Regions from separate parts of the Homo sapiens genome. Here regions 2 and 3 are each linked to region 1. Evidence: fine-mapped QTL for protein levels in blood plasma. A gene starts in region 1. Each other region holds a variant in brackets. All regions are shown on one strand. Distances are from middle to middle.

Region 1 (10,406 bases):
AAAGTCTGGAAACAACAGGTGCTGGAGAGGATGTGGAGAAATAGGAACACTTTTACACTGTTGGTGGGACTGTAAACTAGTTCAACCATTGTGGAAGTCAGTGTGGCGATTCCTCAGGGATCTAGAACTAGAAATACCATTTGACCCAGCCATCCCATTACTGGGTATATACCCAAAGGACTATAAATCATGCTGCTATAAAGGCACATGCACACGTATGTTTATTGCAGCACTATTCACAATAGCAAAGACTTGGAACCAACCCAAATGTCCAACAATGATAGACTGGATTAAGAAAATGTGGCACATATACACCATGGAATACTATGCAGCCATAAAAAATGATGAGTTCATGTCCTTTGTAGGGACATGGATGAAATTGGAAACCATCATTCTCAGTAAACTATCGCAAGGACAAAAAACCAAACACCGCATGTTCTCACTCACAGATGGGAATTGAACAATGAGAACACATGGACACAGGAAGGGGAACATCACACTCTGGGGACTGTTGTGGGGTGGGGGGAGGGATAGCATTAGGAGATATACCTAATGCTAAATGACGAGTTAATGGGTGCAGCACACCAGCATGGCACATGTATACATATGTAACTAACCTGCACATTGTGCACATGTACCCTAAAACTTAAAGTATAATAAAAAAGAAAAAAAACTTGTAAACTTTTACTCATCTGAGGCTAATTTCTAAAATCCTAAAGTGTTGTGTAAATAAAAATTGTCTCAAAGCAGGTTACTGCTTTGTGATTTACAGAGATGACAGTGAAACAAACCTGAAATAAAGCTTTTAAAAACAAATTTGTCCCTGGAAGATTGTTGTCACTGTCCTCAACTTAAAGATAAGAAAATCTGAGATCAAACAGGTTTGAGAATTTGTCCAAGACCACAAAGCAAACCTGTGGCAGAGTTTAGAAAATAATTTCTGATTTCCCAAAAACCCATGATGTAATGTGCAATAAATCAAGGGAAACCCAGAAGAGCCCTTGTTACTCCTTTAGCATGAATACACTTAGGGAGATTGCCCAGTGCACTGAAGCTTGTGACCTCCCACAGCAATGACCGTTAATTAACTCCTTCCCTGCCGTGACTTGAATACTGGGCCAGACCAGATACAACTCAGAACTAGTTTTGTGTGTGTGTGATCTAATAACACTAAGATCCTAACTTGGCCTCTCAAATGGTTTCATTGTTTTGTTAAATTTTAGTTGTTCAAAAGTAGGCCAATTCTACTGTTAAATTGACAAAGCATATGTTGAAGCAACCAAGGAAACTGTAATAGCTTCTTAACACTCTTGCGTAGATCAGATGTAGAAAGTGTTATTTTGGACAGGAGCAGTAGCTCATGCCTGTAATCCTAGCACTTTGGGAGGCCAAGGCAGGAGCATTACTTGAGGCCAGGAGTTCAAGACCAGCCTGGGCAACACAGGGAGACCCCGTCTCTATAAAACACTTAAAATTAGTAAGGCATGGTGGCACATGCCCTTAGTCCCAGCTACTTGGGAGGCCCAGGTGGGAGGATACCTTGAGCTTGTGAGGTTGGGGTTGCAGTGAGCCCTGATTGTGCCACTACACCCCAGCCTGGGTGACAGAGCGAGATCCTGACTTTAAAAAAAAAAAAAGGTGTGATGATCTTGGATCACCAAATCTGTGAGGGGAGGGACAGTCTCCAACTTGTTTCCTGCTCGGTCCTTATTGCGTACTCTTGGAGTTTATTGCAAACTCTTGGAGAAGGTTTACTATTACTAAATGATAAATCCTGACACAGCAAGTAGAGCCAATGAAGCTGCTCTCCTGATCTCAGTCTCTGCTGGGATCCTTTCCTTTAAAGCTACAACCCACCCACTAAACAAGAATATAGTTACTGGGTTTTTCCTTTTTCTTTTTTTTTTTTTTTGAGACGGAGTTCGCTCTGTCGCCCAGGCTGGAGTGCAGTGGCATGATCTTGGCTCACTGCAACCTCCGCCTCCCAGGTTCAAGCGATTCTCCCTGCCTCAGCCTCCCAAGTAGCTGGGACTACAGACGCCCGCCACCACGCCCGGCTAATTTTTGTATTTTTAGTAGAGACGGGGTTTCGCCATGTTGGCCAGGCTGGTCTCGAACTCCTGACCTCAGGTGATCCACCCGCCTCGGCCTCCCAAAGTGCTGGGACTACAGGCGTGACCCACCACGCCCGGCCAGGTTTTTCGTTTTCAAAAATGAGGTAGGGTGTCTATTTTGCCCAGGCTGGTCTCGAACTCTTGGATTCAAGCGATATTTCCTCCTCAGCCTCCAGAGTAGCTGGTATAGACTATAGGGGCCCACTGCCCCGGCCGGCAAGATAATTATTTACTCTCACCAAATTTGATTCAATCGTTTTGGCCAAGTTTTTAAAAATAGGAATATTCCCAGGGACCATGTTTGAAGAAATACAAACTCAAGTAAGCAGAGGTGAAATGACCTGAGAGATTTGCTTTAATACACTTCGGCAAAGAAAGAAAAAAGGTATGGATGAAACTTTGTGACAAACGCAACTGTTAAATGTAGGTGATGGCATATAGGGATTCATCTCACCTTTCCTCTTTTGTCTATGCTTAAAAGTTTTCACAGTAACTTTTCAAAAAAAATTATTATTTCCAAACAAACTTACTGTCCTATCAATTAAACACAAGTCACTGGATGAGAACGCTGTTGTCTTCGAAGCCAAAACTGGTGAAGGGTCTTAAGCAAAGGCGAGGGATCCTCTAGCAGGGCCGACAGCGCGCACGTTTCCTTCAAGGCTGGATCTGACAAATCACTCGGTGCGCTCTAGGGCTCGCAGGATCGCGGAGCTCAATTTGGAAGTGGCGCACGCGGGCTCACGCCGGTGTCTCAGGGAAACGCTAGAAACGCGGCTACAGAGCTCCCAATCCCAGCCTGCGGTCGGCTTGGCTGCGGCGCGACACCTGGCTCCCTGCCACCCCTCTAGACCTCTGGAGACCTCCTGCACCACTCCCCAGGGCCCCGCCCACAGCCTACCTTCCAAGTCCTCGTCCTCCTCCGACTCGCTGTCCCCTTTGGCGTCGGCGACACGGTCCGGGCCGGGTTCTGGCGGGGGGTGGCCCAGGCTCTGGCGTGGGGTGGCGGCGGGCAGGACTGAGGCTGGGGCGCGGGCCTCGCGCAGGCGGGTGAAGTACTCCACTGCGAATTCGACGAGGTCAGGCGGCTGCTGTCGCAGCACCTCCACCGTGTAGCCCTGCAGCAGCTCCGTGAGCCCCGGCGGGATCTGGATGTGGCTCATGCCGGCGGCGGCCGAAGGGATAGACGGGTTGGGCCGCCGGCGGCCACTGTCTCCGCGCTCACTCACGCCGGCCTTTCGCTCCGCGCCCGCGAGGTCTCTTCGCGCACGGCCCCGGCTCACGTCGCGCCGCTCTTTGGCCGGCTCTGCGTTTCCGGGCCGCGCAACCCTACGCTACCACGGCCGACCTGGCACCGCCGCCGCTGTCACTGGGCAGCCGCCGCCGCCGCGGGGACCGACGGGCAGGCGAGCTGGACGGGCGGGGCAGGCGTCCTGGTTGTGACGCACGCCACCGCGGGCGTGCGCGTCCCCGCTTAGCACCGGCCCTCAGTGCGCTTGCGCCACTAGATGACCCGCCCCCTCGGGCTGTCGGGGGGTCGAGACAGTGGAGTGTTCCTGATGCCAGCTCACGGAGGGAATCCAGGGAATTAGGTAATGAACGGTCTACCCATGAAGGGGACCGATTAGTGCCTCTCGCCTGGTCCTGAAGACCTTTAAATTATTCTTTCAGCTGATGCCAAGAGCCTCTTTTTGGCCAGCACTTACTAAGCACCAGAGACACAGCGAGAAGCAGAAGCATACGAGCACATCAGTGTGATTCTGCTGTGATGAAGGGCAAGAGAGGGCTCACTTTCCGGCGTGACATTCAAGCTAGCCCCGAGGCCTGAGCAGGACCCGCCCAGGGGAAGATCTGGAGGAAAGCCATCTGAACATACAACAAGAGCAAAGGCCTGGTGGAGTCAAGACCACCTTGGCTGCCAGGTGGAATGGTGGAATAACTCAGGAGTCTGTCAGGTCTCTGAGATGTCAAACGGGTAAGGCCTTGTAGGAAGTAGGCGTTTGAATGAGATCATAATTTGAGAGCCACAGACAGAAAAATAAATTTGAAAGAGTTCACTCAGCCAAATGTGTACAGTGAGAAAGGGAAATAAGGCCAAAAGCAGCAAAGACCTCTGTGCCTGTTCCTCCTGGAGCACTTTCACCAGGGTCCCCAGATCTAGGTCTGCCCATTCCTCTCCCCACATTCTACACTGGGCCCTAGGTCAACACTGCTTGATGAAGTTGAGCAGACCACAGGCATTGTTATCCTTTGCCCCTGGGAAGATGGTATAGGTGAACTGTAGAGGCCAGACTATTTCCCAAATTGCCCTCCTCCTCCTACCAAACTGGAAGGGTATTGAAAAAGGTGGAGACCTTCCTGGGATGTCCAGTCTACAGCCTACGTGCTAACCAAAGGCCCACTGGGCATAGAGCAGAGTCCCCCTCTCCTTACAGGCCTAGCCAGGAAGAGAGTAGCTGTAGGTTTGGGAACCTGAGGGCATTTGGGATGCTTAAACACCGCCTGGTAATTACTCAGTATTAATTAAAATCCTCCCTATCACCTCCCATACAGGCTTGGCACACACCCAGGAGCTCAATGCTGCTGGGAGCTGAGCAGCTGGGAGCAAGGAGCCCTCATCCCCACTGATGAAGAGGCCAGCCCAGGTTCTAGGCTAAGCAGGCCTGTGATTATAAACAGCAGTGTCTCCCTGGACAAGTTTCTTGACCCTGAGAAGAATGTTAGACCATCAACTTTGTGAGGGGACAGGCAGTCTCCAACTTTTTTCCTGCTCAGTCCTTATTGCATACTCTTGGAGAAGGTCTACTGACTTGTTCTCAGATGCCCCACGGCTCAGCCAACCACCCATCCAGCAGAGCATTCAAAAGGCATCTGGAAGGAATGAGGGCGACCGTTCTGCCAGGCCCCTATTTTTTTTTGAGAGGAGTCTCACTCTGTCGCCCAGGCTGGAGTGCAATGGCATGACCTCTGCTCACTGCAAGCTCTGCCTCCCAGGTTCAAGCGATTCTCCTGTCTCAGCCTCCCAAGTAGCTGGTACTACAGGCGTGCACCACCACACCCAGCAAATTTTTTCTATTTTTAGTAGAGATGGGGTTTCTCCATGTTGGCCAGGATGGTCTCAATCTCTTGACCTCGTGATCCACCCGCCTCAGCCTCCCAAAGTGCTGGGATTACAGGCGTGAGCCACCGCACCTGGCTTTTTTTTTTTCTTTTAGATGGAGTCTTCCTTTTGTCGCCCAAGGTGGAGTGCAATGGCACGATCTCAGCTCACTGCAACCTCCACCTCCCAGGTTCAAGCAATTCTCCTGCATCAGCCTCCTGTGTAGCTGGGATTATAGGCACCTGCCACCATGCCCAGTTAATTTTTGTATTTTCAGTAGAGACGGGGTTTTGCCATGTTGGCCAGGATGGTCTCGAACTCCTGACCTAGGGATCTGCCCGCCTTAGCCTCCCAAAGTTCTGGGATTACAGGCGTGAGGCACTGCACCTGGCCATTTTGTTTGTTTGGGTTTGTTTTTGAGATGGAGTCTTGCTCTGTTGCCCAGGCTGGAGTGCAGTGGCATGATCTCGGCCCATTGCAAGCTCCACCTCCCGGGTTCATGCCATTCTCCTGCCTCAGCCTCCAGAGTAGCTGGGACTACAGGCGTGCGCCACCATGCCCAGCTAATTTTTTGTATTTTTTAGTAGAGACGGGGTTTCACCATGTTAGCCAGGATGGTCTGGATTTCCTGACCTCATGATCCGCCTGCCTTGGCCTCCCAAAGTGCTGGGATTACAGGCGTGAGCCACCACGCCTGGCCTGTTTGTTTTTTTGAGACACAGTCTTACTCTGTTGCCCAGGCTGGAGTGCAGTGACGCGATCTCGGCTCACTGCAACCTCCACCTCCCAGGTTCAAGCGATTCTCGTGTCTCAGCCTCCCAAGTAGCTGGGATTATAGGTGCGCACCACCACGCCCGGCTTATTTTTTGTATTTTTAGTGCAGATGGGGTTTCACCATATTGGCCAGGCTGGTCTTGAACTCCTGACCTCAGGTGATCCGCCTGCCTCAGCTTCCCAAAATGCTGGGATTACCAGCATGAGTCACCACGCCCGGCCAAGAAAGACCCATATTTTGTTTTGTTTTCTTTTTTGAGATGGAGTCTTGCTCTGTCGCTCAGGCTGGAGTGCAGTGGCGCAATCTCTGCTCACTGCAACCTCCACCTCCTGGGTTCAAGCCATTCTCCTGCCTCAGCCTCCCGAGTAGCTGGGACTACAGGCGCACACCACCACGCCTGGCTAATTTTTGTATTTTTAGTACAGACAGGGCCAGACTGGTCACGAACTCCTGACCTCAGGCGATCCACCCGCCTCAGCCTTCCAAAGTGCTGGAATTATAGGTGTGAGCCATCGCACCTGGCCACCAGACCCCCATTAACTTCAGTAGGGATGGCACCAGGTTTGAGAGGCCAAAAGAGATCCAGAGCCAGCAAACAAGACTTAGGTTTGATTGAGGGGAATTTGCATACAGAGCAGTCCAGTGGAGGTGGGCTAGATAGGAGAACTGCCCCACCTGCAGAAAGTATGCAGTATATATAGCATTTTCACTTAACACCCTCCCCCTAACAACTTTGATTTAACCCAAAACAAAGGGGCTAAATCCCCTGTACATCCACAGGACAGAATGGGGGCTCAGATATTCCTCATGGGTAAGTAATGAATCTCTGGCTTGTCCTCACTTGGAACTCCTAACACATTCAGGTGCATCTGCCATACAGGGTCATTCTCAGAGTATGCTTAAGTTATTGCTGTCAGGTGCAGCTACCATACACAGGTGTGTCTGCCATATAGCCACAGAAAGCAGGAGTCCTACAGCTGCTCCTCATGGGTCTCCATAGACTAGTCTTAGAGCAAGGATGGGCAGCCAGCCTCCAGGTTTAACCTGGCACTCTCCCCCAGCACTTGGTCCCCAGAGCAGGGGTGCATCTCTCCCACTTCTGGTCAACCCTTCAGTAACAAGTAGAGCCCCCAGGGTCTTCATGAATATCTAGTTGAACTGGCTAAAGAAGAGGGCCCTGTAACAGGACAGAACACCAGGAGCCTGAACCCCGCATCTTCTACCCTTATCCTGCATTTATCCTGCCTGCATTCAAGCCTGTCCAGCTGCACCACTGGAGGTTACCATGGCAACTAAACCCAGAGGCAGCCGGTAACTGAGATACAGCTGCCAAGAGCAACTGATGGTGGAAAAGGCCAACAGCAGAGACTCTTAGAAGGAAGAGAAGTACACAGGAGGAGGCCCCAGAACCCTGAGGGTGCTACACTCAAATCTAATCCTACTCACAACTCAGCAGGCAGTCAACGTCTTGCACAAACTGCCATATCACCAACCAGAGGCACAGATATGGACACAATGGGGCCAATTTGCAGAGATGTTTGCAACTATGGATGCAGAGTAGCACAGGTGGGACACATGTTGTTTAGCCCAAAAGCAACGGGTCTTGGTGAAAACGAAAATGGGTAGGGTACCATTGCTGTTTCCAATGAAACAATGAATTTTGTGTGCTCTTGATAGGTTTGTTATTCAAACGTTTCTGTCTGTCTCTCCAAGATGAAGAGAGGGGCCTAAACTTCCCCGAACTCCTCTGAAGGCCTGCTCTTGGCTCAGATCCTCCAGCTTAAATACCTTATGCCCTCTGCATACTTGCAGGACTCAGGTCCAGCAGGAAAACCTCCCTCTTACTTGATCAAGGGACCACTTTTCTAAGCCATTCCAGTCCCCCACCCATTTCCTGGGATCCGCTGGTCACCTGACCACCTCTACATGCCAGGCCCTCCTGGATTTAGTACTCCCAGCTCACTTAGTTCCTACAAGCAACAGCTTCTATGTTGCCTTAGAAGTGTTCATGAGCCTTTAGTTGGCAAGAGAGATTGAGGAAGTGGGCTATGTTTTCTCGGCCCTTACCCAAGCTGTCTTTCAGCCTCTACTGTGGCTCCTCCAGCGAGGCCATTGCCTTTTGCCCAGGAAATCTAATCTGTTTTAACAAGTGCCCATGCTCCAGGGAGCAGTTAGCTCCCAGGCCACGTTTGTGTACCTGTGAGCCATCCCCACGCCTGAGACACTATGTCCTGAGAAAATGTCAGTCTCTGCAGTGGACCCAGGGTCTGCATCTGAGACACCTCAGGGCAAGGACAGAACCTAGAAAGCACAGGGAAGCTGGCTAGAAAATCACAGGTCTGCATGCTTACCATAGCAGAGAAAGCAGAAAAGGGACCCCTCAGGGACACCTGGCCCTGGGGCCTTCCCAGTGCTGTCAGGACTCTGTGTGCCACTCCTGATCTGACTCACAGGCCAAGTACCTAAGCTTGGACCAGGTGGTACAGACAGGTCTCCTGGAGCCTGGATCAAGCCTCTGATAGCATCACAAGTCTTTCTTCAGGAGACCCAGACAATCCCCACTTTATTATCAATTTGCCAATGACCTTTGCAGATCAGTTTACCCTGTCTGAGCCTTGGCATCCACATCTGAAAGTGGAAGTCAAAATCCCTACTCAGAGGCTTGGTGCAGTGGCTCATGCCTGTAATCGCAGCACTTTGGGAGGCCAAGGCAGGCAGATCACCTGAGGTCAGGAGTTTGAGACCAGCTTGGCCAACATGGTAAAACCCCATCTCTACCAAAAAATACAAAAATTAAGGCCAGGTGTAGTGGCTCACACCTGTAATCCCAACACTTTGGGAGGCCGAGGTGGGTGGGTGACTTGAGGTCAGGAGTTCAGGACCAGCCTGGCCAAAATGGCGAAACCCCATCTCTACTAAAAATACAAAAATTAGCTGGGCGTGGTGGTATGCACCTGTAATCGCAGCTACTCGGGAGGCTGAGGCAGGAGAATCACTTGAACCTGGAAGGCAGAGGTTGCAGTGAGCCAAGATCCAGCATCGTGCCACTGCACTCCGGCCTGGGTGAAAGAGGGAGACTCCATCTCAAAAAAAAAAAAAAAAAAAAATCCCTACCCATTAAACATTGAGTTACAAGGGGATAAAGAAATAAGAGAATAAACTTATAAGGAGGTTACAAAAGATGTAAGGGGTTCCAGCCTCAAAAGGCTGTAAGGAGGCTGGGCACGGTGGCTCATGCCTATAATCCCAGCACTTTGGGAGGCTAAGGCAGGCGGATCGCCTGAGGTCAGGAGTTCGTGACCAGCCTGGCCCCGTCTGTACTGAAAATACAAAAATTAGCCACGCGTGGTGGTGTGCACCTGTAGTCCCAGCTACTCGGGAGGCTGAGGCAGGAGAATCACTTGAACCCAAGAGGCGGAGGTTGCAGTGAGCTGAGATCGCTCCACTGCCTCCAGCCTGGGTGACAGAGCAAGACTCTGTCTCAAAAAAAAAAAAAAAGGCTGTAGGGAAACAACTGTGGGGTAGAGATAGTATGACTTTATAGCTGAAATGGTGCTACTGTGCTTTTAACAATCACTGTTGCAACAACCTGTGCTCCTTCCCTCACCTTTGGCCCAGTTATATGCTTCTTGATGCCTGGGTGAGGCTTTTATCACCAATTGGTTGTTTAAAAAAATCACTGTCTGGCTCCCAGTTGTGACTGTCTGTGAAAGAGAAATTGCTAGGGAGGCCCCAATTTTCCCCTACTCCTTACCCCTGTCAGGAAGAGAAGAGATATATCAGGAACAGGTGGCATTTCAAAGTGCATCATAAAAAGGAAGCACCAGCCAGGAGGGAGTTACTCAACATCTGCTCTGCTCCCATCACAAATATGCCTCCAGGGGCTTCCCTATTTGACTTAACATCTATTGAACACCCAAAGGACTAAAATAATCTACCATCACTAACATCAAAGAACCAAAATACTCCATTTTAAAATGGAAAATTTTTCAAAGGGCAAATTATCCAGAGGCACAGACTGTAAAAGTGATCCTAAGCCATGGGAATGGCTGGCATTTGGCTGAAATGCAAATACATTTACAGGGGCTTCTAGGCAAAAGCTGAGGTTTTTGAATAGTCTCAGCCGGGTGTGGTGGCTCACACCTGTAATCCTAGCACTTTGGGAGGCTGAGGTGGGTGGATCACTTGAGGTCAGGAGTTCAACACCAGCTTGACCAACATGAGGAAACCCCATCTCTACAAAAAATACAAAAATTAGCTGAGCGTGGTGGCAGGTGCCTGTAGACCCAGAGGCTGAGGTAGGAGAATCTTTTGAACCCGGGAGGTGGAGGTTGCAGTGAGCTGAGATCATGCCACTGCACTCCAGCCTGGGTGACAGAGCGAGACTCCATCTCAAAAAAAAAAAAAAATTTAAATTTAA
Region 2 (10,428 bases), 470 kb before region 1:
GACCCTGTCTCTAAATAAATGCATACATAGGCTCTACAGCTGCAGCCTCAACCTCCTGGGCTCAAGAGATCTTCCTGCCTCAGCCTCCTGTGTAACTGGGACTACAGGGGTACACCACCACAACCAGTTGATTTTTTTTTTTTTTTTGAGGTTGAGTCTTGCTCTGTCATCTAGGCTGGAGTGCAATGGCACGATCTCGGCTCACTGCAGCCTCTGTCTCCTGGGTTCGAGTGATTCTCCTGCCTTAGCCCCCTGAGTAGCTGGGATTACAGGCATTTACCACCATGCCCAACTAATTTTTGTGTTTTTAGTACAGATGGGGTTTCACCATATTAGCCAGGCTGGTCTTGAACTCCTGACCTCAAGTGATCCACCTGCCTTGGCCTCCCAAATTGCTGGGATTCCGGGCATAAGCCACCATACCCGACCATATTTTTTAAATTTTTTTGTAGAGATTAGGTCTCACTTTGTTACCCAGGCTGGTCTTGAACTCCTGAACTCAAGCGATCCTCCCACCTCGGCCTCACAGGCGTGAGCCACTGTACCTGGCCTAATCCTGATAACACTTTTTTTTTTTTTTTTTTTTTTAAAAACAGAGTCTCATTTTGTCTCCGAGGCTGGAGTGCAGCAGCATGATCTTGGCTTACTGCAACCTCCGCCTCCTGGGTTCAAGCAATTCTCATGCCTCAGCCTCCCAAGTAGTTGGGATTACAGGCACCTGCCAACATGCTAATTTTTGTATTTTTAGTAGAGACAGGTTTAGCATGTTGGCCAGGCCGGTCTAGAACTCCTGGCCTCAAGTGATCCACCTACCTCAGCTTCCCAAAGTGCTGGGATTACAGGCGTGAACCACTGTGCCTGGACTTGATAACTCTTTTAAAACTCAGAAAAGTTCTCTGATGGAGAGATTTTAATATGCCTTTTATATCTATGGAAACTGAGGATAAAAAGGAAAAGCAAGTTGGCCAACATCTCCCAAATGGCCAGTCTGCCGTGGGAACCTGTGTTTGGATGACTCTGGAGCCCAATTTCTATCTTCTCCATATTGTTACCCAAACCTTCCTAAGAGGGTACAGAAATATTTTAAATTATCTTCTTTTGGTTTGGATCATCCCTTAACTATCTGGTGGCCAAGTCTTCTATGTTTCCTTCTAGCATTTGAGACGGAGTTGGCTTATCTCTCAGGAAATAGACTTACAGTGGATGAACAGGAGAAATCAATCATTTGTAGTGTATCTCCAAAGCAAGAGCTTTGTGCCTGGGATGTGCAAGAGGTGAGTCTGGCCAATATGTGGCAAAAGTACTGCATATTTGCATCCATCCTGTTCTATATATGAAACGGAAGTGCTGAGAGGAAAATATTCGGAAGTGGTAACAAAAACAAAGTGTCAAATCAGGTTTTCTATCATGTAATTTGTGACCTTTTCATTTGGACCATAGACACACATAGAATTCACTTTTGTTGTTGTTGTTATTTTTGTTTGTTTGTTTTTTGAGACTGAGTCTCGCTCTGTTCCCCAGGCTGGAGTGCAGTGGCAGGATCTCGGCTCACTGCAAGCTCCGCCTCCAGGGTTCACGCCATTCTCCTGCTTCAGCTTCCCAAGTAGCTGGGACTACAGGCGCCCGCCACCACGCCTGGCTAATTTTTTTGTATTTTTAGTACAGACAGGGTTTCACCATGTTAGCCAGGATGGTCTCGATCTCCTGACCTTGTGATCCGCCTACCTTGGGCTTCCAAAGTGCTGAGATTACAGGCGTGAGCCACTGCGCCCGGCCTTTTTTTTTTTTTTTTTTTTTTTTTTTGAGACAGTCTCACTGTGTTGCCCAGGCTGGAGTGTAGTGGCGCGATCTCAGCTCACTGCAACCTCCGCCTCCCGAGTTCAAGCGATTCTCGTGCCTCAGCCTCCTGAGTAGCTGAGATTACAGGCGCGCGCCACGATGCCCAGCTAATTTTTGTATTTTTAGTAGAGACGGGGTTTCGCCATGTTGGCCAGGCTGTTCTTGAACTTCTGGCCTCAAGTGATCTGCCAGCCTCAGCCTCCCAAAGTGCTGGGATTACAAGCATGAGCCACTGCACTTGGCTGAGAATTTACTTTTTAATATGTGTTTCTATATATAAATTTGTATAAGGTCTTATTTTCTACCAATAACATGGAATGCATTTATGAAATAATTTTTGGGCTTTCTGCATCTTTATTACCTGTTCTATTGCCTCTTTGTCAATGATTGGCATTTGTTATATTGGCTTTTTCAGAAAGTGGTCTCTAGCTCAGATGATCTCCAAGGCGTGCAAAGGATTTATCTCAAAACTGAGTGTGGCTTTTGTCTAATGGTATAAACTGCAGTGAGGTTCTTAGGAGACCCATAAAGTTTTTGTTGAAGAGAATTACACTGAGAGAAACACTGTCAGCTTGGATTTAAAGGGGCCAAAACACACAAAAGGAAAAGAGGCCTTTTGGATTTCAAAACTTTTACAGGCAGGAAGCAGACTACCAAAAACAATTTAGCTAAAAAATTGGGCCACCGCATAGAGAAAGCGAAGGATGACCCAGACAGAATCAAGAGCCTAGAGAGTAGAACCAAGAGTCATTAAAGATCTTTCTTGGGCCTTGAGTCCTAATTGACAAATTGCCAGCATGTTTTCTATTGGATTTCAAAATTTCTTGTAGCAGTGATTCCTATTTTTCCATTTTCACCTTTTCTGAATAACAGTGACTATGTTATCCTGCGCTTACCCCACACTTGTACTTTGGGGATAGTGAGGGACAGATAACTTGTATATTTAGTTTGAAGATTTTCACGTCAAGATAAATTGAATCTAAAGAGCTTCATCTATACCTGGACCTAGAAACAATGAGAGCCTAGATTCTGCAATGATACTACAATGGTATGAGACATTTGAGAGCATTGGGAGATGGTGGATATATTTTCATGTAGGGGGAAACTGAATCACTGGAGGCTGTGGGGCAGACTACAGCTGCCAATCTCTGAGATGGCCCAAATATTTTTGCCCCATGATAATCACGATCAATCTTGTGTAGTCCACTGCCACAGTCAATAGGGCTGACCTGTGCAACCAATAGGATATTGTGGAAATTATGGTGTATAATTTCTGAAGCTATGTCACAGAAGACAATTCTTCACTCATGGGTCATCAGCTCTTGGAGATCCAGCCACAGTGTTATGAGAGCTCTCAAGCAGCCCTCCAGAAAGATCTGTGTGGTGAGGGACTGAGGACCCCTGCCAGTAGCCAACACCAACTTACACAGCTATATGAGAGGCCATCTTGGAAGTGAAACTTGACTTCACCCTCATGAGAGACCTACAGCCAGAACTACCCAGTCAAGCTACCCCTGAATTTCTGATCAAAAGAAACAGAGTTAGCAAAAGCCTGTTTTAAGCCACTAAATTTTGGGATGCTTGGTTACATGGCCTTAGATATTACTGCATAGGCAACTTGTTATAGTGTGAAAAATCAAAATAATGATTACATTTGGGTGCGGAGAGCCATGGGGGAGTTGTTAAATAGAGCACATGCAAAGGGGACTTCAGGAGGGCTTAGAAGTGGTACATTGGTAATCACTTGTGATAATTTATTAAACTTCGTGCTCTTTTCTTATATGATATACTTTACAATTTTTTTAAAGGCTAAAGAATCATCTAGAAAGACAACTATTCTATCTTGTATGTAATGTACAAGGTTGAATAACAATTTTAATGATAGTTAATACATTTTGGGTTCCTACTGTGTCCTAGGCAGAATTCTAAGTATGTTTCATGAGATGTGAAAGGTAATGACAGCCTCATTAGAAGGCATGATAGAAAGTGACTTGCTGAAGGCTGCACTGTGAGTAGGAGGCAGAGGTGATTTGAACCTATGAAGTCTGATCATTCTTTGCGCCTGTTATGTACCAAGTTCTTGTCTCGGAGCATAATGTGTAGTTCCTGTTTTCATGTTCACTCCTCCAAAATATTGAGATGTGGAGAACTTTCATATCCTCTGCCCAGAAGCAAGAAGATCTGATTTGGAAGAGGCTTCCAAATAAACATGGGCAGAATGAAAGCACAGTAGGTGTAAGGGTTCCTTGAACACAGGTCGTGTTACTCTCGTTTTCTAGGGTACCATGATCTGGTCAAGCCCAGTCCAGGAGTTCCATTTCTCAAATCTGGTAACCCTCCCTCAGATGCATCTCGCCATCACTATGGATCGGAAAAAAACTATCAAAGTGTGGAACTGTCAGGACAGGGACGCTCTGGCTGTTCTCCCCATGCCACAGCCCTGTTATTGCATGGAAGCCTATCTTACAAAGGATGGCCCATTCCTGATGGTAAGTGAGCCCTGAATTTAGAGGGGACCAAAAAATCAAATGCCTGTTGTCTTGTCAGGCATCCGTGTCACATTACTGTCCTATCCCTTTTTTTTTTTTTTTTTTGGAGACAGAGTCTCACTCTGTTGCTCAGGCTGGAGTGCAGTGGTGCAATCTTGGCTCACTGCAACCTCTGCCTGCTGGGTTCAAGCAATTCTCCTGCCTCAGCCTCCTGAGTCGCTGAGACTACAGGCACACACCACCATGCCTGGCTAATTTTTTGTATTTTTAGTAGAAACTGACCAGGCTGGTCTTGAACTCCTGACCTCGTGATCTGCCCACCTCAGCCCCCCAAAGTGCTGGGATTACAGGCATAAGCCACAGCGCCTGGCCTATTTCTCTTGTCATCCCTTCCACATACCCTGCGAGTCAATCACAGTATATCAATGAATGTTATACAAACCTCCACACTATCTTGCCCCTTGACTTGCCTCAAGTACATTTCCCCAGCAATTCTTCTAAAGACAAAAAGCCAAAAACTTCCTGAATTACTTTATATGTGCCTTTTCTTTCAAGTGGTGTTATTGTCCAGTCCATGAACTTGGTTGGGGACAGTTGAGGGAGAAGAGATGGCTTTGGGGTGACATTGAGAAAAAGCATAGTGTTGATGTGCTAATGAATAACTGTCCTTGAGAAGAATGCTTTGGGGCTTGGAAAGTTTTATTCCATGGGATTATCCCAACAGTGTCTCAAGCTAGACTGGTCAGAGGTTTTGATCTCCATTATGTGATTGAAGAAACAGTGGCATATCTTGCAGCTCATAGTGCTGCCTCCTCTGTACTTCAGGATTTCACATATCTTCCTATTGATATGGTGGGGATGCTTTGGTTTCAGGTTGGCGATGCTGCAGGTGACATCTACACATTTACACTGCCTGGGTTAAGAGATGTTTCTAAAGTTACTGCATTTCAATATGGTATTGTACTTCTACACTGCTCTCCTGACAAGAAATGGGTATTTGCATGTGGGACATACAGTCGTACCTTGCCACAGGTAGGTGCTGTTCTGTGTATTTCAATTTCAGGATAGGAATGTCAAGTTAGGAAGCATGCAGAGAAACTGCAGAGCTCAGTGAGGACCAGGCACACTGCTCCTTCCTCTCTAAGACCACATCACAAGGGGAATCCATTGTGATGGTCAGGAAACAATGCTCTTTGAAGTAACAACATCCAGTTGCTGTGGCAAATGTTTAACAAAAACTCGTTCATGAAGCCCGAATTTGCCAAAGAGATGGAAGAGGGTGAGACAGGTATCAAGAAATAGGGATTGCTGGGCATGGTGGCATGCACCTATAGTCCCACTTACTCAGAAGGCTGAGGCGGGAGGATCACGTGAGCCCAGGAGTTCCAGGCCATAGTGTGCTATGCTGATAGGGTGTCCACACCAAGTCTGGCATCAATAC[G/A]TTCACCTCCTGGGAGCAGGGGACCACCAGGTTGCCTAAGGAGGGGCCAACTGGCCCAGGTCAGAAACAGAAAAGGTCAAAACTCCCATACTGATCAGTAGTGGGAATGCACCTGTGAATAGTCACTGCACTCCAGCCTGGGCAACATGGCGAGACCCTACCTCTTAAAAAAAAAAAAAAATTTTTTTTTTTTTTTACAAAAATATCTTTGTCCTTGTTCTCTTTTGCCTTCTTTACTTTTATCTATGTTGGCTGCAAAGTGTAGAGAAGTCCAAAAGTAACTGAATATGCAACAGCCTCTGAATATCACTCTGAGGAAGGCTTTGGCCTTTGAGCAGGCCATTTGTAGTGGGGCACTGGTGGACTGGGCACCAAAGAGGGAGGAGTTCAGAAGGCAGGTAGTAAAAGCCACACAGCCCTTGACTTGTTCCCCAAGAAGGGAAAATCTGCTTAGCCAACCTCAACTTGACCAAGGGTTCAACATGGCAAGATGGTTTCATAACACCTTAGCATGCTTCAGGGACATTGTTCTGTGAATGGGACAGGAAGAATAGGAAGACAGTGAGTTCCTTTTATGCTGGAGTGATAAGCAGTGACCACTCATCACTCCTGAGATATTGAACAAAGCTTTGGCCACAAGATGAGAATTTCTAAGAAGGCTCTTCTGGAGTCACTCCTGTACTGAGAGGCTATAAGTTCCCTGCCCCTGACCATGCATGCGATGCTCTCTTTAGGTATTCCTCACAGAGTCCTTACTGAGACCATCAGAAGGCAGTGTTCCTCTGTCTACCTTTCTCCCACATAAATTATGTGCCAGCGCCTGCTGGACCCCAAAGGTGAAAAACAGGATAACACTGATGTCCCAAAGTAGCACTGGAAAAAAGACAGAATTTATCACCTTTGATCTAACAACCAAGAAGACTGGAGGCCAAACAGTCATCCAAGGTAGGCTGTGCCACATTAGAAACGCTTGTTTCTCTTCCTCATCACACAGTCATTCGTGTTTAGCTCTAATAAATGGGTCAGCCTGTATAAAGTGAGCAGGGGATTTCTAGTTTTTTTTTTTTTTTTTTGAGACGGAGTCTTGCTCTGTTGCCCAGGCTGGAGTGCAGCGGCACAATCTCGGCTCACTGCAAGCTCCACCTCCTGGGTTCACGACATTCTCCCGCCTCAGCCTCCCGAGTAGCTGGGACTACAGGTGCCCGCCACCATACCCGGCTAATTTTTTGTATTTTTAGTAGAGACAGGGTTTCACCCTGTTAGCCAGGATGGTCTCAATCTCCTGACCTCATGATCCGCCTGCCTCGGCCTCCCAAAGTGCTGGGATTACAGGAGTGAGCCATCGCACCCGGCCAGGAGCAGGGGATTTCTTTAGCTGGGGGTGAACCCATCCCAGTTCGACTCTAATACCCATGCTGATCTCTACCCCCACCCTGCTCTCTTGGGCGAACACATATAGATTTCCATCATATTTTAGGGCCTGGGTTCCAATGCCCAGGGGATTGTTTATTGTCCACAAACCTCTGTTCCTGTGTCCTAGCACCTGTTACCACAGTCAGTGATATGTATTTGTCAGGCCACTGGACTACCCTTCATTTTCTTCCCCGGAATGAAGTCTGTGGAAGTGGGGACTATGCTTTTTTATTCAGTGTGAGGATATTATTATTCAATGACCTGATCTTTACTTCCTTATGTGTGTGTGTATATATATGTGCGTTTTACATGAAAACAGCATATGAGATCGCAAGTTTCCAGGTGGCAGCTCATCTGAAGTGCCCTATCTGGATGGGAGCCAGTGATGGATATATGATTGTCTTTACCAGTGGACCATACTTGTTACTCTTCAGCATCACTGGCTTCCTGCTGCAACGATTTGAGGACCATCAGGCAGCCATCAACAACTTCTGGGTGGTATGTATGATTCTCCTCCACTGCTTTTTGATCTGACTTTGACTCCTTGGCCACTCACTCTGGCTATCCTTGGAAGGATCCTTGCTATGTGCTCACCACATCCGAGAACTCTGTGCACGTGTACATGTGGGAAGAAGGAGGCCGCCATCCATACCTCAGGAGCTGCTGTCACCTGGAAAACACGTGGCATGATCACACAACAGACAGGTAAGCTCTGTTTTGTGATGTAAACATCCCCTAAACAACTTTTTTTTTTTGAGACGGAGTCTCCCTATGTCACCAGGCTGTAGTGCAGTGGCGTGATCTCAACTCACTGCAACCTCCGACTCCCGGGTTCTAGCAATTCTCCTGCTTCAGCCTCCCAAGTAGCTGGGATTACAGGCATGTGCCACCACACCTGGCTAATTTTTGTATTTTTAGTAGAGACTGGGTTTCCCCATGTTGGCCAGGATGGTCTCGATCTCCTGGTCTCGTGATCCGCCCGCCTTGGCCTCCCAAAGTGCTGGATTACAGGCGTGAGCCACCGCACCCTGCCGAAAACTTCTAATTTCTACATCAAGATGAATGAAGGGAAAACAGGGGTTTTTTTTTTTAAGGTTCTCTGAGGATAGATATCAATAAACTCATGCCTGAAAAGAGAATCGCTAGTTCTTGAAGTCATGGGACTTGCAATAGATGTTAAGTCTTCCCAAAGTGGCTCTCAATTTATATTCCCATGAGCAGTGGATAGATTATGTCCCAATACCCTGTGTTTTCTTGCTGAGTTGTACCTTTTGTGAGTTCATTAGCCACTTGCTTGCTGCTTCAGTGAGCTGCCTTTCCCTCCATTTTGCTGATTTTTGCCCCTGGTTTGCTTGCCTTTAAATTGTTTTTCTTGAGATTTTACGTAGTACACGTAGAAGTCTTGTCTCTTAAGGCTTTGCACACATTTTCTTCCAGATTATTGCTAGTCATTATACTGCTTATAGTGCTTTTTTGGCAACATCTAAGAAAATACATATATCCTTTGCACTGCCAACACCACTAAAAAGAATTTACTGTGAAGCTATACCTCCAATCATTCAAGTACATTGGCTGTTCATTACAGCATTTGTGATAGTCAAGAGCTGGAAGCTCCCTAAGTGTCCAAACATAAGAGATTGTTTAAATTACCATCGTATATCCACACAAGGAAGTATCAGGCAGCTGTTATTAACTTTTTTACAAGAATAGGAAAATGTCTATGTTCAGATAATGATTTCCAGTGTTTTGAGGCAAAAATACTTTAAATATCTATAAGCATGCTTAGCAGACTTTCATGGTTTTTGCTCTGTATATCATATCTAATAAATTTTAGCCTACACCAATCATAAATACTTATTTCCTTTCAATAATTTCAAATACTTCCCCTGGATTTTTTTTCTTTCTTACATTTGAATGGATGTATAGTGATACCTCATTGTGATATTTATTGTGCCTTTTCCCAATAACATTGAGCAATTTATTTGCCATCCACATTATCTTCTTTAACACATTTTTTCAAATCTTTTGACCATTTTTTAATTGGGTTGTTAATATTGAGTTTCTTAATATCGAGTTTTGATAGTCCTTTATATATTTGGAATACACGTCTTTTATCAGATAAGGGTTTGCAAATATTTTCTCCCACTCTGGTTTGTCTTTCTATTCTCTTCACAGTGTCTTTCAAAGAGCAAGGGTTAACTTTGAAGTACAATTTTTCTTCTAAAATGACTGGGCTTGGGGGATTGTATCTATGAAATCTTTGCCTAACCCAAGATCACAGAGATGTTCTAAGATTTCCTCTAAAAGTTTTACAGTTTAGGGTTTTACATTTAGGTCTCTGATGTATTTTGAGTTAAATTTTGTAAGGGAAAGATAAAGATCAAGATGTATTTTTTTGTATATGAATATTCAGTGATTCAGCACCATTTGTTGAAAAAACTCCTTACTCCGTTGAATTGCCTGTGTACCTTTGTCCAAAATCAACCATATTTACATGGGTTAGTTTTGAGACTTTCTCTTTTGTTCCAATCATCTATATATGTATCTCTTATCAAATAACACACTACATTGAAAATGTAACTTTATAGAGACTTTGAAATCAGATAATGTGAGTCCTCTAACTTGTTCTTTTACAAAATTATTCAGACTATTCTGGTTCCCTTGTTTTCCAAGTGAATTTTAGAATTGGTTTGTAAATTTTTACAAAAATTCTGAGATTTATATTGGAATTTGTTTAGATGTAGAGATTAATTAGGGGAATTGGCATCTTTACTATTTTGGCTCTTTCAGTACATGAACCTGAATGTCTCTTACTGTTTTAGGCCATCTTTATTTTATCAGTGTTTTTGTAGTTTTTAGGATAAATATTTTGCACATATTTGTAAAATTTATACCTAAATATTTCGTGGTTTTGGTGCTATTATAAAGAGTACTGTCTTATTTCAATTTCCATTTTTCATTACTAGTATATAGAAATACGACTGACTTTTGTATATTGACCTTGTATCCCGCAACCTTGCTAAACTCATTCATTCTAATAGCTTTTATTCATAGATTGGTAGATACTTTGTGCTTTCTCTATGTAGACAATCATGTCGTCTGTCAAACAGTTTTCTTTCTTTTCAAATGTATGCCTTGTTGTTCTTCCCTTTTTGCATTGGCTATAACCTCCTGTGTGGCACTGGAGTGGAGAGCCGACATCCTTCCATTGGATGAAAAGTGTTTGGTCTTTCACCATTATTATTA
Region 3 (9,241 bases), 480 kb after region 1:
GCCGTACCAGTTTAGTAGTTTATTCCACGCCTCGGTAGGGACCAATACATAGTCCAATTCATCAATTAAGTGTTCTTTCAAGGTCTGACTCTCAGGATCTAAAAAAGGAAAAGAGCACATAAGTCACTGCTCTTTACCCCAGAAATGATGGTTTTACATGATTTCCATGTACTTTTCAGAAATAAGAAAATTATTTACAGAAAGAAACAGGAATGAAATTCCAAAATTCTGTCACTGGTCATTATACAGAGCAGACTTTTGTCTTTATCCATGTTTTCTCTTTATCCATGAAGATTTTATGAGGAATTTGTATTTCTTCTATAATTGGAGGGAGAGAAGAGGATAAAAAAGAAAAACTCCAGGCTGGGTGTGGTGGCTCACACCTGTAATCAGCACTTTCGGAGGCTGAGGCGGTTGGATCATGAGGTCAGGAGTTTGAGAGCAGCCTGGCCAACATGGTGAAACCCCGTCTCTACTAAAAATATAAAAATTAGCCGGGTGTGGTAGCGGGCACCTGTAGTCCCAGCTACTCGGGAGGCTGAGGCAGGAGAATTGCTTGAACCCGGGAGGCAGAGGTTGCAGTAAGCCAAGATCACGCCACTGCACTCCAGCCTGGTGAAAGAGCAAGACTCCATCTCAAAAATAAATAAATCATACATGAGGTGGTTATGGTTTCCCACCATCCCTCCGACTAGTTTACACACCTTTTTCAGGGCAGGGTTCCTTTGTTGTCATTTCAACAATGCTCATAACATCTTCACCAGACATAGATTCCATCTCAAGAAACCATTTTCTTTGCTCACCCATAAGAAGCAACTCCTCAGCCATTCAAGTTTTATCATAAGATTAAAGCAATTCAGGCCGGGCATGTTGGCTCATGCCTGTAATTCCAGCACTTTGGGAGGCTGAGGCAGGCAGATCACTTGAGGTCAGGAATTCAAGATCAGCCTGGCCAACATGGTGAAACCCCATTTCTAGTAAAAATACAAAAATTAGCTGGGCATGGTGATGCATGCCTGTAGTCCCAGCTACTCGGGAGGCTGAGGCATAAGAATTGCTTGAACCCAGGAGGTGGAGACTGCAGTGAGCCGAGATACCCCACTGTACTCCAGCCTGGGTGACAGAGCAAGACTCTGTCTCAAAAGAAATAAAAATAAATAAAAATTAAAATTAAAAATAGGCCAGGCGCAGTGGCTCACACCTGTAATCCCAGCACTTTCGGAGGCCGAGGTGGGCAGATCATGAGGTCAGGAGTTCAAGACCAGCCTGGCCAGGGTAGTGAAACCCCGTCTCTACTACAAACACAAAAATTAGCTGGGCATGGTGGTGCACACCTGTAGCCCAGCTACTTGGGAGGCTGAGGCAGGAGAATTGTTTGAACCCAGGAGGCGGAGGTTGCAGTGAGCCAAGATTGCGCCACTGCACTCCAGCCTGGGTGACACAGCGAAACTCCATCTCAAAAAAAATAAAAATAAAAGTAAAAATAAAAAATAAAGCAATTCAGTCACATCTTCAGGCTTCACTTCTAATTCTAGTTCTCTTGCTATTTCCACTTTTGCTGTTACTTCTCCCACTGATGTCTTGAGCCCGTTGAAGTCATCCGTAAGTGTTGGAATGAACTTCTTCCAGACTCCTATTAATGTTGATTTTGACCTCCCATGAATCATGAATATTTTTGTGTGTGTGTGTGGGCAGGTGGGAGTGGCAGGCCTTACTCTATCACCCAGGCTGAAGTGCAGTGGCATGATTACAGCTCACTGCAGCTTCGACCTCCCAGACTCAAGCAATCCTCCTGCCTTAGTCTCCCAAGTAGCTAGAACTACAGGTGCATGCCACCAGGCCTAGCTAATTTTCGTATTTTTTATAGGGATGGGGTTTTGCCAAGTTGCCCACCCTAGTCTCCAATTCCTGGGTTCAAAGGATCCACCTACTTCAGCCTGCCAAAGTCCTGGGATTATAGGTATAAGCCACTGCACCAGGTGGAATCATGAATATTCTTAATGGCATCTAGAATGGTAAATCCTTTCCAAAAGGTTTTCAATTTAATTTGCCCAGATCCTTCAGGAGAATCACTATCTATGGCAGATAAAGTCTTATAAAATGTATTTCTTAAATAATAAGACTTGAAAGTTGAAATCAAATCAGGCACGCTGGCTCAGGCCTGTAATCCCAGCACTTCGGCAGGCTGAGGCGGGAGGATCACTTGAGGTCAGAAGTTTGAGACCAGCCTGGCCAACATGGTGAAACCTGGTCTCTACTAAAAATACAAAAATTAGCCAGGTGGAGGGACGGGCACCTGTATCCCAGCTACTCAGGAGGCTGAGGCAGGAGAATTACTTGAACCTGGTAGGAGGAGGCAGGAGAATTGCTTGAACCTGGGAGGGAGAGGTTGCAGGGAGCCAAGACTGAGCCACTGCACTCCAGCCTGGGCAACAGAGTGAGACTCTGTCTCAAAACAAACAAACAAACAAACAAACAAACAAAAAAAGTTGAAATTACTTCTTGACTCACAGGCTGCAGAACGGATGTTTTTAGTAGGCATGAAACAACATTAATCTCCTCATGCATCTCCATCAGAGCTCTTGGGTAACTAGGTACATTGCAATGGAGCAGTAACTTTTTTTTTTTTGAGACAGTCTCGCTGTGTCCCCCAGGCTGGAGTGCAGTGGCGCCATCTCGGCTCACTGCAAGCTCCACCTCTCGGGTTCATGCTATTCTCCCGCCTCAGCCTCCCGAGGAGCTGGGACTACAGGCACCCGCCACCACACCCGGTTAATTTTGTTTTTGTATTTTTAATAGAGACAGGGTTTCACCATGTTAGCCAGGATGGTCTCAATCTCCTGACCTCGTGATCCGCCCACCTTGGCCTCCCAAAGTGCTGGGATAACAGGCGTAAGCCACTGCACCTGGCAGCAGTAACATTTTGATAAGATTAGCTCAGTGCTTTTTCTGAGCAGTAGGTCTCAACCCTGAGCTAAAAATATTGGGAGGCTGGAGGCTGGAGGCCGGAGGCCGGGCGCGGTGGCTCCCACCTGTAATCCCAGCACTTTGAGAGGCCGAGATGGGTGGATCACGAGATCAGGAGATTGAGACCATCCTGGCCAACATGGTGAAACCCCGTCTCTACTAAAAATACAAAAAAAGTAGCCGGGTGTGGTGGCAGGCACCAGGCGCCTGTGATCCCAGCTACTCAGGAGGCTGAGGCAGGAGAATCGTGTGAACCCGGGAGGCGGAGCTTGCAGTGAGCCGAGATCGCGCCACTGCACTCCAGTCTGGGTGACAGAGCAAGACTCCGTCTCAAAAAAAAAAAAAATATTGGGAGGCCGGGCGTGGTGGCTCACACCTGTACTCCCAGCACTTGGGGAGGCCGTGGTGGGCAGTTACCTGAGGTCGAGAGTTCGAGACCAGCCTGACCAACAAGGAGAAACCCCGTCTCTACTAAAAAAACAAAATTAGCTGGGCGTGGTGGCGCACGCCTATAATCCCAGCTACTCAGGAGGCTGAGGCAGGAGAATCGCTTGAACCTGGGAGGCAGAGGTTGTGGTGAGCCAAGATCGCACCATTGCACTCCAGCCTGGGCAAAAGAGCAAAACTCCGACTCAAAAAAAAAAAAATCGGTAAACTTGTTGTGGTGGCTCATGCCTGTAATCCCAGCACTTAGGGAGGTCAAGGCGGGTGGATCACTTGAGGCCAGGAGTTTGAGACCAGCCTGGCCAAAATAGCAAAACCCCATCTCTACTAAAAGTACAAAAATTAGCCAGAACTGGTGGTGCATGTCTGTAATCTCAGCTACTTGGGAGGCTGAGCCATGAGAATAACTTGAACCCGGGAAGCAGAGGTTGCAGTAAGCCGAGATTGCACCACTGCATTCCAGCCTGGGCGACACAGCGAGATTCTGTCCCAGAAAAATAAAATAAAAACAAAAATATTCGGTATACCATGCTGTAAATAAATATGCTATCATGCAGGCTTTGTTGTTGCATGTGTAGGGCACAGGCAGAGCAGATTTAGCATAATTCTTGAGGGCCTTGGGATTTTTGGAATGATAAATGAGCACTAGCTTCAAACTAAAGTCACCATCTGCAGTATCCCTTAAGAAGAGAGTCAGCCTGTCCTTCAAGGCTCTGAATCTGGCCGGACAGAGTGGCTCATGCCTATAATCCCAGCACTTTGAGAAGTCAAGGCAGACAGATCACTTGAGCCCAGGAGTTGGAGACCAGCCCGGGCAACACGGCAAAATCCCATCTCTACAAAAAAAAAAAAAAAATACAAAGCTGGGCACAGTGGCTCACACCTGTAATTCCAGCACTTTGGGAGGTCAAGGCGGGTGGACCACCTGAGGTCAGGAGTTCGAGACCAGGCTGGCCAACGTGCTGAAATCCCGTCTTTACTAAAAATACAAAAAAAAATTAGCTGGGTGTGGTGGCAGGTACCTGTAATCCCAGCTACTTGGGAGGCTGAGGCAGGAGAATCACTTGAAACTGGGAGGTGGAGGTTGCAGTGAGCCAAGATTGTGCCATTGCACTTCAGCCTAGACGACAGAGCGAGACTCTGTCTTACAAAACAAACAAACAAACAAACATATAAAAATCAGCCAGGCATGGTGGCAAGCAACTGTAGTCCTAGCTACTCAGGAGGCTGAGGTGGGAGGATCACTTGAGCCCAGGAGGTTAAGGCTGCAGTGAGCTGTGATCACACACTACAGCCTGGGTGACAGGGCAAGACCCTGTCTCAAAAAAAAAAAAGGCTCTGAACCCAGGCACTGACTTTTCCCCTCTAGCAGCAAAGAGGTAGATGGCATCTTCCCAATAGAAGGGTGTTTTGTCTACATTTAAAATCTGTTGTTTAGGCCAGGCACAGTAGCTCATGCTTGTAATCCCAGCACTTTGAGAGGCCGAGGCAGGCGGATCACTTAAGGTCAGGAGTTTGAGACCAGCCTGGCCAACATGGTGAAACCCCATGGTGAGACTCTGTCTCAAAAAAATAATAATAATAAATAAAAATAAAATAAAATAAAACCTGTTGTTTAGCCTGGGCACAGTGACTCACACCTGTAATCCCAGCACTCTGGGACGTCAAGGCGGGAGGATTGCT[T/C]GAGCCCAGGAATTCAAGATCAACCTGAACAACATGACAAAACCCACAAAAAATCTCTGCAAAAAATACAATAATTAGTCGAGTGTGGTGGGGCCTGTAGTTCCAGTTACTCAGGAGGCTGAGATGGGAGGATCACCTGAGCCTGGGAAGGTCAAGGTTGTAGTGAGGTGTGATTGTGCTACTGCACGAGGTAGCAGTAGCTACCTTTTTTTTTTTTGAGACAAGATGGCACCTTGTCTCAAAAAAAAAAATAAATGAATAAACTTTCTCCATATCAGCAATAATAAGGCTGTTTCAGCCTCTTATAATTCATGTGTTCACTAGAGTAGCACTTTTTTTTTTTTTTTTTGAGATGGAGTCTCACTTCTGTCGCCCAAGCTGGAGTGGAGTGCAGTGGCGCAATCTCAGCTCACTGAAACCACCATTTCCTGGGTTCCTCCATCTCCCAGGCAACATGACAAAACTCCATCTCTACAAAAAGAAAAAATAAACACATACAAAAATGAGCCAGGAATGCTGGCAAGCACCTGTAGTCCTAGCTACTCAGGAGGCTGAGGTGGAAGGATCACTTAAGTCCAGGAGGTTTACATTTACATTCACAACTTGGCTAGCTATATGGCACAAGAGGCCTAGCTTACAACCTATTTCGGCTTCCTTAACCAAACTCAAATCATTTCTAGCTTTGATTTGAAGTGAGAGACATGCAATTCTCCTTTTCACTTGAACATTTAGAAGACGTTGTTAGGGTTACTAAGTGGCCGAATTTCAGTGTCATTGTGTCTCAGGCAATAGCAAAGCCTGAGGAGAGAGAGAGAGATGGAATGGCTGGTTGGTGAAGCAGCGAGAATACACACAATAATTACCAATTAAGTTCACTGTCTTACATGGGCTCCCTTCATGATGCCCCAAAACAATTACAATAGCAACATGAAAGATCCCTGTTGGCTGGGCATGGTGGCTCATGCCTGTAATCCCAGCACTTTGGGAGGCTGAGGTCGGGAGTTCAAGACCAGCCTGACCAACATGGAGAAACCCCATCTCTACTAAAAATACAAAATTAGCCGGGCGTGGTGGCACATGCCTGTAATCCTAGCTACTCGGGAGGCTGAGGCAGGAGAATCACTTGAACCCAAGAGGTGGAGGTTGCCATGAGCCACGATCATGCCACTGCACTCCTGCCTGGGCAACAAGAGCAAAACTCCGTCTCAAAAAAAAAAAGAAAGCTCCCTGATCACTGATCACCATAACAAATAATAATGAAAAACTTTGAAGTATTTTGAGAATTACCAAAATGTGGTAACAGAGACATGAAGTGAGCACATGCTGTTGTAAAAATGGAACTGACAGATTGTCAAGGCAGCGTTGCCAAATACCTACAAAATTTGCTAAAAATGCAGTATCTGCAACATATAATAAAGCAAAGCACAATAAGCCAAAGTATGCCTGAATTTAAAACCTTAAGAATTCTCCATTTCATAAAAATGAGAAAAAGAACAAAATGTGAACATAATGAAATGATTCCTTAGGGCAACTTCGTGGCATAGTGCCACCATTTGACCTATTTCAGGAAACAAAGTAAATGATATTGTTTATACCATGTAGACCTCTCCTAAAACAAGGTCTGAGCTGAAGCATTGCTCAGTTTTAAAAATATCCAAGTTAGGCCAGGCACAGTGGCTCACACCAACACTCTGGGAAGCCAAGGTGGGAGGATGGCTTGAGGCCAGGAGTTCAACCAGCCTGGGCAACATAGCAAGACCCCGTCTCTACCAAAAAACTTAAAAAACAGCTGAGAGTGGTAGAACACTGTAGTCTCAGTGACTAAGGAGGCTGAGGCAGGAAGATAGCTTGAGCCCAGGAGCTCAAGGCCAGCCTAGCCAACATGGTAGAGACGGGGTTTCACCATGTTGGCCAGGCTGGTCTCGAACTCCTGACCTCAGGTGATCCACCTGCCTTGGCCTCCCAAAGTGCTGAGATTACAGGCGTGAGACACCACTCCTGGCACTGCCCTGATTTTTGACACCCATGACAGATCACCTCTATCATGACTTTAAAGAGGTCTGAAGTCAGGCAAAAGAAAGCCTGGGAAAAGCTGACTCTGTCATCTCAGTGCATGTACAAGTGCAAGCAAGCTCTAGTGTGTTACATGTCGCTTTTCCCACAGTTCCCATTGGGAGCTGACTACAGTCATAACTCTGTCTACTGACCTTCAACCTCTCCTCACACTAGTTATATGATAAAAACAGCCATCACAGGAATTCTTGATGAAAGTTCACAGGTTTACAATTTGTTCCACTGCAAAGGTAACAAAAAATTCTGGTTCTTAAATTTTAGATACAATTTCAAAATGACATCCTATTTCTTTCCATTCCATATACTAACTTAAAATGTGAAATAGCTAGCAGAACTAATTTGCAAAGAGAGAAAGTTAAAATGTTAGAAGCATACTCTTATCAGATGCAGTTAATTTAAGGGAAAAAAGTAGCTTAACTTCTCATTAAGGGTTTGCAAAGACTTCTGCTATAGATGCAAAATGAGGATACTTGTTTCTATCTCCTCACACTAGGAAAGTTCACAACGTCCATGTTACAGATGCACATAACATCAGGCCACTGCCCAGGTGAATGTTTAGCTAGAAAAGCAACATTTACTATACCTGAAAATAGCCCAGAGTTGTCTATTGGGCCAGGAAATAGGTTATGTTCACCCACATTGTACATGTCCCAGCTGTCAAAGCCCACATACTTCTTCCACTGCTTGAACCACCGGCTGTCAATAAGATACCTAGAGAGAGACAGAAATTTACTGTAGCAGAAAAGCTGAGATTATAAATTTCTGCAGCTGCTTCCTTAATCTTTTTTATGGTCCTTCCACTTGGGGCATATGCAATACCCACTAAAAAACACTGTCACAAGAGCAAGAGCAGGGCCCAGGCCCCACATGGCACAGAGAGTCTGGCCCAGGGTATGCATCCATTAAGTGAAATGATTGTTCAAAGAGTGAATAAAAGAAAGAAAACAAGTGGTTTCAAAATGCTTATTTAAATGCAGTCTTTCTTTTTTTTTCTTTTAGACGGAGTCTTGTTCTGTCGCCCAGGCTGGAGTATAGTGACACAATCTTGGCTCACTGCAACCTCTGCCTCCCAGGTTCAAGCGATTCTCCTGCCTCAGCCTCCTGACTAACTGGGATTACAGGCACCTGTCACCACTCCCAGCTAATTTTTGTATTTTTAGTAGAGACGGGGTTTCACCATGTTGGGCAGGCTGGTCTCAAACTCCTGACCTCAGGTGATCCGCCTACTTCGGCCTCCCAAAGTGCTGGGATTACAGGCATGAGCCACTGCACCTGGCCTCTTTTTTTTTTTTTTTTTTTTTTGAGACGGAGTTTTCGCTCTTGTTGCCCAAGCTGGAGTGCAGTGGTATGATCTTGGCTCACTACAACCTCCACCTCCTGGGTTCAAGCAATTCTCCTGCCTCAGCCTCCCAAGTAGCTGGGATTACAGGCATGCATCACCAGGCCCAGCTAATTTTTTTGTATTTTTAGTAGAGATGGAGTTTCACCATGTTGGCCAGGCTGGTCTCGAACTCCTGATCTCAGGTGATCCTCCTGCCTTGGCCTCCCAAAGTGCTGTGATTACATGCATGAGCTACCACACTCAGTCTAAATGGAGTCTTTTCATGGGTAAAATCATGTTTGCTAATAAACAAGTCATTAACTTCTTTTTTTTTTGAGACAGAGTTTCGCTCTTGTTACCCAGGCTGGAGTGCAATGGTGTGATCTCGGCTCTCCGCAACCTCCGCCTCCCGGGTTCAAGTGATTCTCCTGCCTCAGTCTCCCGTAGCTGGGATTACAGGTGTGTGCCACCACACCTGGCTAATTTTGTATTTTTAGTAGAGACAGGGTTTCTCCATGTTGGTCAGGACAGTCTCAAACTCCCTACCTCAGGTAATCTGCCCACCTCGGCCTCCCAAAGTGCTGTGATTACAGGCGTGAGCCACCGCACCCGGCCACAAGTCATTAATTTCATAATGATCTTTACAGAAGTCCCACTCCAGGCAGACAGTTTGGTTACACTGTTTTGCTTGACATGAACAGCACTAAACTAATGCTCTTTCTGAAAATGGGTTAGAAACACCACCCACTTCAG

Which allele goes with the higher level. Alleles are on the strand shown, and positions count from the first base shown. The strength of an association depends on the size of the effect and on how common the allele is.
For the plasma level of the protein whose gene starts at base 3,552 in region 1, allele G in region 2 goes with a higher level than allele A (moderate association).
For the plasma level of the protein whose gene starts at base 3,552 in region 1, T is the high allele of the variant in region 3 and C is the other (moderate association).

What was found. PIP is the posterior inclusion probability: the model's chance that the variant is causal. The UK Biobank Pharma Proteomics Project read protein levels with antibody pairs (Olink). The fine-mapping took linkage between variants from a reference panel, not from the people measured, so its PIPs are less certain.
Region 2: its variant is fine-mapped to the plasma level of the PRKAR2A protein (UK Biobank, PIP above 0.99).
Region 3: its variant is fine-mapped to the plasma level of the PRKAR2A protein (UK Biobank, PIP 0.97).

The regions. Positions count from the first base shown.
Region 1 is chr3:48,844,323-48,854,728 of GRCh38, forward strand. PRKAR2A (protein kinase cAMP-dependent type II regulatory subunit alpha) reads right to left here and starts at 3,552. Exons shown (of 11, transcript NM_004157.4): 1 at 3,013-3,552. The coding sequence starts at 3,274. PRKAR2A-AS1 (PRKAR2A antisense RNA 1) reads left to right here and starts at 3,615. Exons shown (of 3, transcript NR_109997.1): 1 at 3,615-3,703; 2 at 3,783-4,086; 3 at 4,665-7,660. RefSeq lists a silencer at 3,365-3,694.
Region 2 is chr3:48,374,199-48,384,626 of GRCh38, forward strand. It overlaps FBXW12 (F-box and WD repeat domain containing 12), which reads left to right. Exons shown (of 11, transcript NM_207102.2): 5 at 1,156-1,274; 6 at 4,119-4,328; 7 at 5,202-5,360; 8 at 6,504-6,714; 9 at 7,502-7,680; 10 at 7,757-7,887. It also overlaps the pseudogene RN7SL321P. Among named protein-coding and RNA genes, the nearest start is that of FBXW12, 7.2 kb to the left of the region's middle. The variant G/A (reference allele first, on the strand shown) is at 5,770.
Region 3 is chr3:49,327,719-49,336,959 of GRCh38, forward strand. It overlaps USP4 (ubiquitin specific peptidase 4), which reads right to left. Exons shown (of 22, transcript NM_003363.4): 2 at 7,751-7,878; 3 at 1-98. Among named protein-coding and RNA genes, the nearest start is that of USP4, 7.7 kb to the right of the region's middle. The variant T/C (reference allele first, on the strand shown) is at 5,095.